Linked DNA regions of Homo sapiens. The gene in region 4 interacts genetically with the main gene of each other region. Each region holds a gene or a part of one and is shown on either strand. Other genes may lie near its edges.

Region 1 (3,746 bases), on a different chromosome or scaffold from region 4:
AGGGACAGGAGGGAGCCTCAGCACCGGCCTGGGGTGTGGGGCGCAGCCGGGGTAGCCGCCAAGGCTCACCTTAACGGCAATGACGTGGCCGGTCTTCCGGAAGCGCATCTTCCACACCTGGCCGCAGGTGCCGCTGCCCATCTCGCCCAAGTTCTCCAGGTCGTTGATTTCTGCCTGGTAGCGCTGGGAGGAGAGGGAGGGTTGGAGGGTCCCTGGGGCCTCTGCCACCGCCCCCTGCCCCCCACTGGCGCTCCCAGGATGGGTCCAGCCTGGCTGGGCCTCCTCCCTCTCCCCGCCACAGTGAAGGTGGTACCTGGCCCCCGATGGTCAGGTAGCCCGTCTGCTTCATGATCTCCTGCAGCTTCTGGTCAATCTCAATGCTGGGGACATGGAGCAGGTGCCGGTGGAGGTGGGTCCTGACCTTAGGTTGGCCACCCCAGTCCCCCATACCGGGGTTCCCACCGGTTTAACCACCCTCCTCCCAGGGCTGGCACGGTGGCCCCTCAATGCTGCTTCCCACCCAACCCTGCTGGGCCCCTGGCTCACCTCTCCATGCTGCGGGGTGTGAACAGGGTTGACGGGAGCCCCAGCATGTGGCGGGGCCGGGCGGGGGGCGTGGGGTGCTGCGGGGAGCTCTCTGAGGATGGCGAGCGGCTGCCCCCATCGTTGGCCAGCGGGAGCTGCAGGGCTAGGGGGGTGAGAACCAGTGGCAGGGAGGGGGGTCAGCGCCCAGCTGGTGTCAGCTCCACATCTGGCACTCCAGGGAGGGGTCGGGACCCTCACCTTCCCCTCCTGGGTTTCCCGAGCTAGGCTGGCACAGCCCCCTGCCCTGCTGGGCTGGAGGAGCTGGGGTCTCCCTCCCACCCCAGACTGTTCTCAGGGTCCCTTGTCTCATCCCCTGACCTGGAAAGAGATGGAGGAGGCTAGCAGGGGAGAGGGAGCCCCAAGTCTACGCTGACGGAGAAACGAGATGGGGACCTGAGGTGTCCCTCGGCCAGGGGGCCTCCCTGACAGGTGTGTGCACTTCCTCCCACTTCTGCCCAGGAAGCAGGCCCAGGGCCACAGCACCCACAGGATGGATAGGCCAGGGCGGAGTGCCTGCCAGGGCTGGCCCAGGCTGTGGCTCTGCTGGTAGCACTGAAGTTGGCTCCCAGACAAGAGCGAGCAGGGCCACGCTGGGGAGGCAGCGGGCACGAGACCCAGGCTTCAGGCTGCCTTGCCCTATCTTCTGTTCCGGGGTCAGGGAGGGCCCCCCTCGGGCCAGTGGGCTGACATGAGGGCCTCCTGGCCTGGCCTGCAGAGCTGGGGCCCATGGGGGCAGGACAGGACCTCAGGGGGCCTGCATCCTCTGGGAGGAGAGCTCGGGGGCACAGCTCCTGCAGGGGCTGGCGGGACCAGGTGGGGCCAATGCTGGGCCAGGCGGGGGTTGGCTCATCCAGCAGCCTGCATGCGGGCAGCTCGGGCATGCTACAGCGGGTGGGCAGGCGGCGGGCAGGCAGCAGGCACCCTGGGGTGGGCAGGCGGCATTAGGGGTGGGAGGGCAGGAGACAGACAGACAGACAGGAACCAAGACTAGGGCCCAGGTGCCCAGAGGAGGCGCTGCAGAGACAGGCCAGAGAGGGGCCTGGGACAGGAGGGCAGCTTCCCGGAGGAGCTAGGGTCTCCCTGGCTGGGCTGGCAACAGGGTGCAGGAACAGAGGCCGGGATGCTAACGTGGCCTCCAGAGGAGCCAATCCTGACACGTCACATCCTAGAGGCCCTGACAACGGCTACACACACCTACCAAGGTGCCCCTCCCACAGGAGCTGGGGCCTGCCGCTCTCCAAAGCCCTCAGCCAACAAGCCCCTCTCCCCTCTTTTCCTCCTGCCTCGTCCACCTTTTCTCCCCACAGTTCTGCAGGCTCCTGGTGACTGGTGCCCAGGGACTAATATGAACAGACAAACCCGCTCCATGCTGGCAGCTAAACCCCGTCCCTCCCGTGTGCCCAGGACCCTGATCTCAGCCAGTAGGAGGGGCAGGAAGACGCCTCAGTCCCAATGCAGGAGGCCCAGCATTGCCCCTATCTGGTCCTGCCAGCCCCTGCAGGAGCTGTGCCCCCTAGCTCCCCTCCTGGAGGACCAGGCAGGAGCAGGGGAAGGGCTCTGGGGACCTTGGGACACAGCCAGGCCCAGCGTTCATGACTGGCCTAGAGGCCTCACCTCCCGTGCCCCTCCCGCTGTCCTGGCCACTGCCGCCTCTGCAGCACCACGTCACCTCCCACTGTTTTTTTTTTTTTTTGAGATAGGTTCTCGCTCTGTCACCCAGGCTGGAGTGCAGTGGCGTGATCTCAACTCACTGCAACATCCCCCTCCCAGGTTCAAGTGATTCTCCTGCCTCAGCCTCCTGAGTAGCTGGGATTATAGGTACACGCCACCACACCCAGCTAATTTTTGTCTTTTGAGTAGAGATGGGGTCTCGCTATGTTGGCCAGGCTTCTCCCTCTGCTTCTTCAGGTCCCTGCGCCTCTGCTCTGTCCATGGCCTGAGCCACAGCCCCAGTCCCCTTCTGGCTCCCGAGGGCCTGTGCTCCCCCCAACCCAGCCCCCAACCCCTGTGCACCTGGCATCTCTTGAGACACTGCCTAGTTCCCGCCCTCAGAGAGTATCCGAGTCCCGCTCACACCCTGCACTCAGCGGTTGACGACCACAGCCCTCGAGGAGTCCTGTGGGCCCCTTCCCTGACAGAGCCCACCAGGCCTTCCGAGGGTGGCCCCGGAGCCTGGGGAGGAGGCTGCCGGACCACAGACTGGAGCATGGGGGGATGGAAGGGAGGGTTCAGGTAGGCACTGGGGGAAGGAGGTACACAAAGGCCCTGAGAACAGAGGCCACAGAGGTGGTGATGGCCACATGGCAGCTCAGGAGGGTGGAGTGAGAGCAAGAGGGTGAGGATGAGAAAGAGAACGGATGAGAGAGAGCGAGAGGCTGGAGGGCACGTGTCTGCCGACAGGAGCCACAGGTGCACCGGCTGCCATGTCAACATGCACGCACATGCCGTGCAAGTGCACGCACGCACAACACACACCCGGGGCATGCCGTGGACCTAACACCCATGCAGCCGGGACAGAGTCCCCCTTGCCCTCGGACACACATACTCACAACCACTCACAGGGCCAGGCACCCCATCTACTCTCTCTCCCAACACAGGCGTGGGGCACAGCCTGCATGCCCCACACAGGCTGGCGCTGCGCTCAGAGCCCTGGCGGCCCTGTCTTCTCTCCCCCCCCAACTCCTTCAAGACGCTTTTTAAATTTTTTTTTTTTTTGAGACGGAGTCTTGCTCTGTTGCCCAGGCTGGAATGCAGTGGCGCGATCTCAGCTCACTGCAACCTCCACCTAATCTTTTATGTTTTTTTTTTTTTTGAGATGGAGTTTTGCTCTTGTTGCCCAGGCTGAAGTGCAATGGTGCGATCTCAGCTCACTGCAATCTCCGCCTCCCGGGTTCAAGCGGTTCTCCTGCCTCAGCCTCCCGAGTAGCTAGGATTACAGCCTCCCGAGTAGCTGGGATTACAGGTATGTGCCACCATGCCCGGCTAATTTTGTATTTTTAGTGGAGACGGGGTTTCTCTATGTTGGTCAGGGTGGTCTCGAACTCCCGACCTCAGGTGAGCCACCCGCCTCGGTCTCCCAAAGTGCTGGAATTACAGGTGTGAGTCACTGTGCCTGGCCTAATCTCTAGTATTTTTAATGCAGACAGGGTTTCACCATGTTG
Region 2 (3,666 bases), on a different chromosome or scaffold from region 4:
CTCTGTCACCCAGGCTGGAGTGCAGTGGTACAATCTCAGCTCACTGCAACCTCTGCCTCCCGGGTTCAAGCGATTCTCCTGTCTCAGCCTCCTGAGTAGCTGTGATTACAGGTGTGCACCACCACACCCAGCTAATTTTTGTATTTTGGGTAGAGACGGGGTTTCACCATGTTGGCCAGGCTGGTCTCAAACTCCTAACCTCAGGTGATCCACTCTCTCTGGCCTCCCAAAGTGCTGGGATTACAGGTGTGAGCCAACTCGCCCGGCCCTCACTGCCTTCTTTTTTGCAGGACACTGATTAAACCTCAGAGGTTTCTAATGTCTTCCATACTACTCGTATCAATCTGATCCTAAAACCCAGCCTCTCAGCAACAGAACTTACCTGGCAAGACTCCCCAAGATTACCCTGGTTCATGGGCATGTATCCAGATGATGGACTTAAAAGGCTCTGGCTCTAGGATGAAAAAATAAGGAAAAGGTTAAGATGAAGGGAGAAATCTACATTCACCATGGGGGCCTTTGAGTAGTTAATCTGGGTATCTGTAGGGTTTGTGAGGGCTCAGGGTGCAAAGTGTTGGGTAATTAGAAGTTGTCTTACCCCACGTGGCCGATTAAGTGTTCCAACTGGTAGGCTGAGGGCGGAGCCCAGTGTGGTGGTTGCCAGGTTGTCCTCCTCTGCTTCCAAGTCTAGGTCTAGGTCTAGTTCTGGCTCCAGCTCTACTTCCTCTAGCTTCTTGTTTGTCAGACCATGGGGCTCTGGCCCAGGGGCTATTCCAGGCCCACTCTCTCTCTATATCGATAGGTGATTGTTAGGGGGAATCCTGGTTCCAGCCAACTCCTCCTTTTTCTAAATTTCCTTAGCACCTCCTACTCCCTACTCACCTTTATGACCAGATACCGTGGTGGGTCTCGGGCCATCCTGGTGAACTCATTGGCTAGTTCTTTAAAGGTTGGGCGAATGTTCTCATCAATCATCCAACCTGGAGATAAGATGTAGGAGGTAGAGACATAAAAGAGAATACATTCCATGGCCGGGCGCGGTGGCTCACACCTATAATCCCAGCACTTTGGGAGGCCAAGGCGGGTGGATCACCTGAGGTCGGGACTTTGAGACCAGCCTGGCCAACATAGTGAAACCCCATCTCTACTAAAAAGACAAAAAAAAATTAGCTGGGCGTGGTGGTGCACGCCTAAAGTCCCAGCTATCTGGGAGGCTGAGACAGAAGAACTTAAACCTGGAACGTGGAGGTCACGGTGAGCCAAGGTCACGCTACTGCACTCCAGTATGGGCAACAGAGCGAGACTCCATAAAAAAAAAAGGAATAGAGCCATAAGAGGAGTACAGAGGGAAGTCAGAAAATGGCTGCAGTCAGGCCGAGCATGATGGCTCACACCTGTAATCCCAGCACTTTGGGAAGCTGAGGCAGGCGGATCACCTGAGGTCAGGAGTTTGAGACCAGCCTGGCCAACATGGTGAAACCCCATCTCTACTAAAAGTGTAACAGTTATCCAGGTGTGGCGGGCGCCTGTAATCCCAGCTACTCCGGAGGCTGAAGCAGGAGAATCTCTTGAACCCGAGAGGCGGAGGTTGTAGTGAGCCAAGATTGATTGCACCATTGCACTCCAGCCTGGGTGACAATTGTGAGACTCTGTCTCAAAAAAAAAAAAAAAAGAAAAAAAAAGAAAAAAAGAGAAAATGGTTGGGCTCAGCAGGTAACTCACACTTGACCATCACCATGTAGACATCAATTGTGCAGATCTGGGGCTGTGCCAACCGCTCCCCCTTCTCTAGCAGGTCTGGTACTTCAGCCAATCGTAGCCCTGCATAGGGCTCTGCCCCGAAGGTCATCAACTCCCAAACTGTCACACCTGTTGCAGGAAGACATGGACTAGTCACTGGCAAAATAGTAGACATGGGCATGAAGTGAAGGGAAGGCAGAACCTGATCTAACACAAAAATCTGAAGTGCTTAGAGATTCTAAGAGGGGGTCTCAAAAGGTAAATTTGAAACTGGGGCCAGTGATGGTAGAGAGGGCATCCAGATGCACTGACCATAGCTCCAGACATCACTCTGGTGTGTGTATTTCCCAAAGTGGATACTCTCAAGGGCCATCCACTTAATTGGAGTCTGCGGATTAAAGATAGAGGTATCACAAGTTTATTTCCACAAATTTTCTTAGGATTTCCAAGTCCCAAATTCTTTTTTTTTTTTTTTTGAGACGGAGTCTCGCTCTGTCGCCCAGACTGGAGTGCAGTGGTGCGATCTCGGCCCACTGCAAGCTCCGCCTCCTGGGTTCACGCCATTCTCCTGCCTCAGCCTCCCGAGTAGCTGGGAGTACAGATGCATGCCGCCACGCCTGGCTAATTTTTTTTTTTTTTGTATATTTAGTAGAGACGGGGTTTCACCGTGCTAGCCAGGATGGTCTTGATCTCCTGACCTTGTGATCCACCCGCCTTGGCCTCCCGAAGTGTTGGGATTACAGGCGTGAGCCACCGCGCCCGGCCAGTCCCAAGTTCTTGATCATTATTTTATTTGTTGCCCTCTGAACTAAAATATCTGGCATCTGCAGCCTTCTCTCCTTGAACTTACCATGAAGCATCTGCTTGCCTCTGGAAGAGACCACTGGCTGCTCCCTATCCCCATGCTTCACTCCACCCCCGCCTCCTTACCCTTTGTGTCTCCTCACCTTGGCCTCACTGTATAGCAGCTGCTTATCATCAGGAGGCAGCAGGTCAGCCACACCAAAATCTGCCACCTGAACCTGACTGGGTGACTTGAGTAGCACGTTTCGGGCAGCCAGGTTTCTATGCACCATACCATGTTCCTCAAGGTAGTACATTCCCTGTAGGTATAGGGGAAGAAAGTATTCTTAAGGTTGGGGGAATCAGTCACTGAGATCTGGAATTCCCCCAAATCTTGAAGGTACCTCTCAGCAGTGGTCCCCAACCTTTTTTGGCACCAGGGACTGGTTTTGTGGAAGACAGTTTTTCCAGGGGAAGGGGAGGGTTGGTTTTGGGATGAAATTTTTCCACCTCAGATCATCAGGCATTAGTTAGATTCTCATAAGGAGTGCACAACCTAGATCCTTCACATGCACAGTTCACAATAGAAGTCAAGCTCCTAAGAGAATCTAATGCTGCCCCTGATCTGACAGGAGGCGGAACTCGGGCGGTAATGCAAGTGATGGGGACTGACTGTAAATACAGATGAAGCTTCACTCGCTTGCCTGCCGCTCACATGCTCTGTGGCCTGGTTCCTAACAGGCCATGGACTGGTACCAGTCTGCAGCCCGGGGGTTGGGGACCTCACCTCTCAGAACTTCAACCTTCTCACTTTTTCCTGGCTGGCCCCCAGACAAGCAGTTCTTATCACAGAATTCCTCCAGGCTTCTCTCACCTTGGCAATTTGTACTCCCCAGTTGAGCAGCAGCTGTGGCCCCAGTGCCCCCCGGTGTTGTCTCACATGATCCAGCAGAGAACCCAGAGGCAAATATTGAGTGACAAGCTGCAGAGATGACCCTGGGCATAGTCCCAGCAGCCTTACAATGTGGGCATGGTCCAGGCTGCCAATGGCCAGCATATGCTAAGAGACACAAAAGGTATTATCTAGGAAACCAACAGGTTCACATACACTCAGCATGTGCACAGCCAGCCCAGGCCCCCCCA
Region 3 (3,409 bases), on a different chromosome or scaffold from region 4:
TGCAGCCCAGAGCCAGGCTCTGGACTTCTGGCTACAACTAGAAACTTAAAAAATCCAACTATCCCACCCCAGCCCTGTCTCTCCTGCCCCATGCTCAGGGAAGTCAGAACAGGATAGAGCAGATCTGGCTAGATCAGGCTCTGCTACTGGGGCCATAGTTTACTCTTGGTACTACCTGGGGGTCCTAGCAAGGCTGAGATGAAAGCCCAGTTCCTGGGCCTCTGCACACACAGATCCAGGGTGCTGAGGCCTCTAAGATGAACTGACCTAGTCTACCAGGGACCCTGCCCCTCTGTGGCCCCTGCTGCCAACACAAGGGTGTACAGGTTTTGACAGGAGCCAGCAGTCACCGTTGGCCCTCTGCCTGCCCCTCATCTAGCAGGGGCCCAGCTGGTGCTATTCTGGTACTGTCTCAGGATCCCAGATGTACACCCAGGAAGATGGGAGTGGTTCCTGAGGTCCTTAGTATCCCTCTTTAATGGGAATGGAATCCCTGATAGGTCAGAACTAAGTATGGTGGCCACTCAAATAGGAACTGTGGCCCTTTCTTGCTAGGCACAGACATGGCTGGATGGTACTGAATGGGTGTGCTGTGTCAAGGGGCACAGAGCAGTGTGGGGTAGTGGGGAAGTGCTAACAGCCAGGCTCAGTTTCCTCATCTGTGAAATGGAGATGGTAACATGTCCCCAGGAAAAGGAAAATTCTTGCTCCACGAGTGTCCTTGTGTTAGTACTTCAGAGACAGCCCTGTCCATAGACTTTATTATTTGGAAGGGGGAAGAGGAGGTCCTTGGCACTGGTTGGGATGGAAGCCCCAGGGGCAAAGGTTTAGGAGTTCCAGGGCTCAGCTGTCACTGGGCAGGGCAGGCACACTGGCAAGGGCAGGCAGCAGGCGTGTATATATGTCCACCCCACGGAGGAACACAGCCTCATGCAGCCGTTCATCGTGGTCGTGCAGCAGCACAGGTGTGCGGTTCATGGGTGAGAAGCCTAGAGCTGGGACCCCCACCTGCAGGGGTGAGGAAGAGCCGTTAGGGAAAAGCCAGCACTCAGGCCCAGTCCACTGCCCAGGCACTATATGCAAGTGGCTCACCGCGCGGATATAGCGGTTGTCAGTGGCAGCAGGCATGATCTCAGGCTCCAGAGTGAGGTTCCTGTAGGAGAAAGAGCCTGATGAATGGGGAGGGAGAAAGCGAAGAATTGAAGGGGCAAAGGAAGGTGGGAAAGAGGTGGGAGAAGGAGGGAGAAGGGAGGGGGCAGCAGGAAGGAGAGGAGTAGGGGGCTGGGCTGTGAGGAGAGCTGGCCAGCGTGCTCACATATCCTTGCAGACCCGGCTAAAAGCTGCCCACCAAGGGTTTGAGTCATCAGTAGGTGTCACTTGGGGGTGCATCCACTTCTGAGGGACAGGAAGAATGGCAGGATCAGGACATGGGCCTGGGCATCTTGCCCTATTTCCCATAGAGTGGGCTGTGCCTAGTACATAACACCTCCCCACCCCCACTCCTTCACCTACCCAGACATCTGGGTAGCCAGTCCAGCCACAGGTCCTCTTTCAGCCCCTCAAATGTCCTAGGTCTGGGACCTTCCCACCCTCCGTCTACTTACCTCCTGTCCATCCTTCAGATCCTAGCCCAAGTGCCCCTTCCTCAAGATGGCTCCCCCAGACCTCTCAGACTAGTTGGATACTCCAGTTACAGGTTTTCAGAGTGCAAGGGGCCACCCTTTCCTGTACCACATGGGTTATATGAAAGTACGGCTGGGCGCAGTGGCTCATGCCTGTAATCCCAGCATTTTGCGAGGCCAAGGTGGGTGGATCACTTGAGGCCAGGAGTTCGAGACAAGCCTGGCCAACATGGTGAAACACTGTCTCTACTAAAAATGCAAAAATTAGCTGGGCGTGGTGGCAGGTGCCTGTAATCCCAACTACTCTGGAGGCTGAGGCACAAGAATTGCTTGAACCCGGGAGGCGGAGGTGAGCCGAGATTGTGCCACTGCACTGCAGCCTGGGTGACGGAGTGAGATTCTCTCAGAAAAAAGTAATATCACATAAATGTTTGATTTATATCTCCCCGTTTCACCATACAAGGGCATGAACTGTGCCTAATTTTACTCCCCACAGCATTCCCCAGCACCCACAGTGGCCTCTACAATGAATGCTTGTTGGAATAAAATGTGTCTGTCACAGATAAAGAAATGCCCAGACATATGCAGACACACCAAGCACACACTCCACTGTTGCACACTTGGGTCTCCCCCGGCTCCCACACTCTCCCATCACATGTCCCAAGTCCATACCTGAGCAAACTCTAGGGTGACCCCCTCGCCAGCTGCCTGGCACCAGCTCTGCAGCTGCTCCTCAAAAGCCTAAGAGAAGGGAGACGAGCTGATCCTTCAGGCTTTCCAGAGGCCTCTAGGACAAGACTGAGGACCCAGGATCCCTCCTCCAAACCCAGGTGGAGGTGGCACCTTGAAGTCCACATCCGGTGCCACACGGAAGTCAAAGCTGGCGCTCATGGTGGCAGGTATCACGTTATAGGCCACGCCACCCTCTAGCTTAGTCAGGTTCACGGAGGTCACGGACCCCTCTTTCAGGTGGGGGTTTGACTGCAGCCTGTGGTGTGGGGGCAGGGTAGCGGCAGCAACAGATAAAAGAGGTGGCTCAGACTCTATCCTCTGTGGTACCGCCTCCCAGAGCCACCCCACTGCCTCCCAGGCTGCCTCACCTCTGCCATTCCTTCTCCCGGAATGCCAGGATGGAGTTTACAACCTTGTGCTATGAGAATATGAGGTTAAATGGGACAGTGGCCTCAGGATAGAGCCTCCTGAACTCCCAGACTCCCTCCTGGGGTGCCACGTACCAGCTTCTCTGCTGCTGTGTCCTCCATGAAGCGTGAGGCATGGCCTGGCCTCCCAGTGCTGGTAACCCGCACCCCTGGGGAGGTGTAGGGGGAAGGCAGTGTCTTCAGCCTGAGGGGCTGGAGACACAATCAGCCTGGGGTGGGCCCAGGTCTCCCCCTCATTCCAGGCTCCTCTGGCAGGGTCCTGTCCCCACTCAGGGCCCGTAGCATACAGCTGGTTTCTGCCCATTCAGGGCTTGCCCTCAGAGAAGCTCAGATAGGAAAGAGCTGGGAGGTAGAGGCCCTGGGTTCAAGGCCTTCTCAGGCCTCAACTTTGCTGTGCAACCCTGCATAGGACCGTGCCCTTTCTGGCCTAGCCTCCCGCCTGTAGAGTGAGCCCTCCCTCCAAGCTCATACTTACACCAGGGACTCCGCTCACTATAAAAGACAGTGAAGGCATCAGTGGGATTGGCTATGCCTGAGGAGGGAAAGGGGGTTCAGAGGGTGGAGCAGCTCAGTCCCCACTAGCAGCCTCCTACTCCCTGCCTGGCTGCTCATTGGCTTGCCAACCTG
Region 4 (3,746 bases):
CCACCACCTAAGGGGCTCTTTCCTGGACCCTGGGGCCCGCTGGGTGAGCTGTGCTGCAGAAGACCCCAACAACCCCTTGGGGGCACGGCCCACTCCCTCCTCCATCCCATGAGCTCCCTGGTGGGTGCTGAGTGTAAAACCAGCCAAATGCCAGGGAGCTCAGATGAGAGGAGCCCCTCCTGTGGGGTCTCCAAGCCCCAGGGCAGGCAGGGAGGGGCTGAGCGGGGGCTTGCCTTGAGGTAGCACTGGTATGTGTTGAAGATGAGCGGCTTCTCCACATTGAACTTCCGCTGCATCTCCAGCGTCAGGCGGCTGATGGCCGGCTGGAAGTAGGTCTGCTCGGCATCCACCATCAGCCGCACGCCCATCTCTGTGGCTTTCTGAGAGGCGCAGGGGGTGGGAGAGTGGGAGCAACTGTTGCTCAAGTGAGGCAGGTGCCCTCTTCTCCACGAGTCCCAGGTACCCTCTGCCCGAGCGGGACAGCTCACCTTGGCCAGGACATCCATCCGCTGTAGCATCCTGGTCATCTGTAGCTCCTCCTCCTCAGTGAACCGGGACAGCAGGGGCTCCAGCTGTCCTGTCTGGGGGTGCAACACGCGGTCAGGCCACAGCAAGGGCGGGAAAGTGCCACCCTGAGGCCCAGGCTAAACCTCTCTCAGTATTCCCAGCCCACAGGAACCCTCTCACCCGTCTGTGCAGGGCTGGGAGGGAGGGCCACCTGGACAAGCAGCACAGTGCCCCTGAACCTCCAACGCAGCCAGTGCACTGCCCTATGCGGGGCCTAGGGGTACCACGAGGGAGCTCAGTGCCCATGTCAGTGGGCCCCAGGCTCAGTCCAGGCCTGCACTCCGAAGTGTGTACTCCCCAGTTCCCACAGAGGCCCCACCGTTGTGGGAGAGCCCCCTGCAACTCCCATGTGACATTGAACAAGTGAACACTGATCACCCAATCGTCAAACAGAAGGGCTCCACCCGGAGCAGGCAGAGGGCCCAGGAGGAAGACCCCTGGCTACAGGCAGACAGGGCAGTTGTGCAGCACGTGCTGACACGTAGCCAGGGACCAGGGCAACCACCAGGATGAGGCCTTCAAGTTGCTGGTGCTCAGAGGCCGTGGGGACCCATCCCGCAGGGCCTCCCGCTCACCCCTTTGCTGGCCCCAGCAGCCTTGCCTCACTGGGCACAAACAGTACCACTCTATCCCTTGCTACACCATGCTAAAGTCTCCAACAGCTGGTGGCCTTGGTGCACAGCCACACTGTACGCACTGCGCCCCGAGGCTCTGGGTCGGGGGCTCTAAGTTTGAGGCTGGGCCCTTAGTGGACTGGGGCTAGATGTGTCATGGAAAGCTGCCTCTGCAGGATGTTTTCTGAAGGTGCTTCTGTTCTTTCTTTGAATCCCAGTTTAAGCTGTGGTTTCAAGCAGTCTGCCAGGTCCTGGGCCCCCCTCCCACAGGCAGATGAGTCTCATTCCTCTCCCCGCTGTATACAGGCTGGCCTGGTGACATGCTTCTAACAAACAGAACTTGCCAGAAAAGACACCGTGTGACTTCTGAGGCGAGGCAGGAAAAGGTCACCCAGCTTCTGCCTGGCTCTCACGTCTCAGGTGACACTGGCCCTTAGAGCCCAGCTGCCATGTTGGGAAAAAGCCCAAGCCACAGCCAGCACCAACTCCCAGACATGTGAATGGGTGCCTCCCCCAGGTCCCAGCGCCACCACTCTGTGAGTACAGCTACCCAGGAGACCCCAGGGGAGGACTGCCCAGCTGAGCCCTGTCAACCCCAGAACCATGAGGCAGAAGCAGAGTGGCTGCTGCCGTTTCAGGCCTCTGAAGTTTGGGGTGACCTGATGCACAAGACAGATGACTTGGGGAAGGCCCCCAGACCCCCTCTCCTTGTGGTGTCTTAAGGCTCCGCGTGGGTCTCTGTCCCGCCAAGCACTCTGTGGACACTAGTGGGCTTGTCTTCTTCCCCCTGGACCACAGGGGGTCTGTGGGGCCATAGTGTGCAGTGATTTTGGTCATGTTAAGTTCCCAGGGTAGGCAACAAGAGACACACGTGGCAGGCTGAATTCCCTTCTTAGCGCAGCGCCCTGCTGAGCTGGGCCTCACTGAGGAGCGGAGGTGTTACCTGTGCGTTGGGGACTACCAAGTGCTTGGACAGCTTGGTCCTGCTGTCGATGAGGCTGCTCCAGTCCAGCAGGTCCATGGTGCTGAGGGAGGAGGCGCATCAGCAGAGGGGGCACCCCCACCTGTGGGTGCTAGGGTCGGGTGGGGGATCGAGGCCCAAACCTGTCCGTTCACCACCCACCACAAAACCCACCTCGGTGTTCAGTTTTAAAAGACAGAGGAAATATAAATATTGTTTTCTGTTTAAAAATTTAAAACCAGTGGCATGCGGGGGCTCAAACTTATAATCCCAGCACTTTGGGGGCTGCGGCGGGCAGGTCACTTGAGCCCAGGGGTTTGAAACCAGCCTGGGCAACATGGTGAGACCTGGTCTCTATAAAAAATAAATTAATTAAATAAATTTAAAACCAAAACACAAACAGTCCTGCATCTAGGCGGCTCTGAAAACACTGAGTACCCTAGGCTGTTTTGGGCTTGTGGAGGGGCCGAGCACAGGCAGCCAGGCAGGAGGCGGACACAGCTCCGGGCGGCCAGGGAGGACACAGTGGGCAAGGCTGGCAGTGTGTGAGGGGATGGCTCACTACTGCACCACCCCAGTCACCTCCCCACTTCAACTGGAGGCTCCTGGTGATCTGGGTCCCAGCCCCTGGCTCCAAGGATGGGGCATGGGGCTCTGATCCTTCACCTGCCGGCGTGGACTCCAGGGAGGGCTGAGAGTGCCACCTTTGCTCTGGACCCAGATAATTCTATAAAGAGCCCTCTATGGGGTCTGTGCTGGCCCTGTGTCTCCCCTGCCCAGCCCAGCCCCAGCCTCAGGGACTCCTGAAGCCATCAAGTCCTGCTGTGTGAAAAGCAGTTCCTTCAGCACTGTCATCCCAGGGCCCACCCTCTCAGGCAGGGCAGCCAGGACTGGGAGACGTCACTGGGGCTTGGCTGGAACCATGGCTGATGCTCGTGTCCTCTCAGCCTGGGGGCTGCTCTCACCCAGACACTCCCAGGGTCTCTGCCGTGAACCAGTCCTCAATCTCAGCCCTGGATGCGATGCCCAACTTTGCGACACTTTCCTTGAGAAGTGAGAAGGCCTGGATCAGCCCCATTCACTCATATTTTATCCTTCCCCCCACCCATTGGCCTCTGGTGCTGTTTCTGGCTTTATTACATCGTTAGTAAGAACAGGATCCATGTCTGGTTTGTTTCTACTGCATAGACAGGTCTATTCCCACCCCGCTGCTGATGCACGCCCACGCCCTGCAGGGCTGGGTCTCCAGCCCTCCTGCCAGCATCTCCCCTCTCTGTTCAGAGTCCCTCTGACCTCCTCCTCCCCACCAGGCCAACCCCAGCAGCTGCAGAGTGAGCCACATGCCCTGGGTGAGTTCCCAAAACCACCTCCGACCACTGCCCACCATGCCCCGTGTGACCCCACGGTGCCCACCCCCTCACAAGCCACAGGAGTGGGGAAGGGGAAGGCTGCCCCACCTGCAGCACCGCCACCTCCAGCTTGGTGTCCATGGCAGCCAGGCCCGCCTGCCCTTGCTCCACAGCCATTTGGTGAAAGAAGCACCTCCACTTGGCCAGCACCTCTGAGAACTGCAGCTGCAAACGCAGGCCTGAATGCCATCTGCA

The links.
Region 1: changes in PRODH (region 4) and MAP2K7 together harm fitness more than expected from each alone (negative genetic interaction), as found in Homo sapiens cells (one large-scale study listed by BioGRID).
Region 2: changes in PRODH (region 4) and ERBB3 together harm fitness more than expected from each alone (negative genetic interaction), as found in Homo sapiens cells (one large-scale study listed by BioGRID).
Region 3: changes in PRODH (region 4) and ACY1 together harm fitness less than expected from each alone (positive genetic interaction), as found in Homo sapiens cells (one large-scale study listed by BioGRID).

The regions. Positions count from the first base shown.
Region 1 is NC_000019.10:7,906,697-7,910,442, reverse strand, and holds part of MAP2K7 (dual specificity mitogen-activated protein kinase kinase 7), read right to left. Parts: intron 689-3,746; coding exon 547-688; intron 381-546; coding exon 314-380; intron 184-313; coding exon 70-183; intron 1-69. UniProt on the Homo sapiens protein: Dual specificity protein kinase which acts as an essential component of the MAP kinase signal transduction pathway. Essential component of the stress-activated protein kinase/c-Jun N-terminal kinase (SAP/JNK) signaling pathway.
Region 2 is NC_000012.12:56,096,962-56,100,627, reverse strand, and holds part of ERBB3 (receptor tyrosine-protein kinase erbB-3 isoform 1 precursor), read right to left. Parts: intron 3,584-3,666; coding exon 3,398-3,583; intron 2,844-3,397; coding exon 2,688-2,843; intron 2,129-2,687; coding exon 2,053-2,128; intron 1,870-2,052; coding exon 1,723-1,869; intron 981-1,722; coding exon 883-980; intron 791-882; coding exon 599-790; intron 455-598; coding exon 383-454; intron 1-382. UniProt on the Homo sapiens protein: Tyrosine-protein kinase that plays an essential role as cell surface receptor for neuregulins.
Region 3 is NC_000003.12:51,986,510-51,989,918, reverse strand, and holds the end of ACY1 (aminoacylase-1), read right to left. Parts: intron 3,315-3,409; coding exon 3,258-3,314; intron 2,932-3,257; coding exon 2,858-2,931; intron 2,773-2,857; coding exon 2,723-2,772; intron 2,611-2,722; coding exon 2,466-2,610; intron 2,364-2,465; coding exon 2,295-2,363; intron 1,396-2,294; coding exon 1,316-1,395; intron 1,154-1,315; coding exon 1,093-1,153; intron 1,009-1,092; coding exon 844-1,008; 3' UTR 722-843; downstream 1-721. Other genes in the region: ABHD14A-ACY1 readthrough (NMD candidate), read right to left, coding at 844-1,008, 1,093-1,153, 1,316-1,395, 2,295-2,363, 2,466-2,610, 2,723-2,772, 2,858-2,931, 3,258-3,314. UniProt on the Homo sapiens protein: Catalyzes the hydrolysis of N-acetylated amino acids to acetate and free amino acids.
Region 4 is NC_000022.11:18,919,218-18,922,963, forward strand, and holds part of PRODH (proline dehydrogenase 1, mitochondrial isoform 1 precursor), read right to left. Parts: intron 3,717-3,746; coding exon 3,600-3,716; intron 3,188-3,599; coding exon 3,108-3,187; intron 2,207-3,107; coding exon 2,125-2,206; intron 582-2,124; coding exon 489-581; intron 381-488; coding exon 234-380; intron 1-233. UniProt on the Homo sapiens protein: Converts proline to delta-1-pyrroline-5-carboxylate.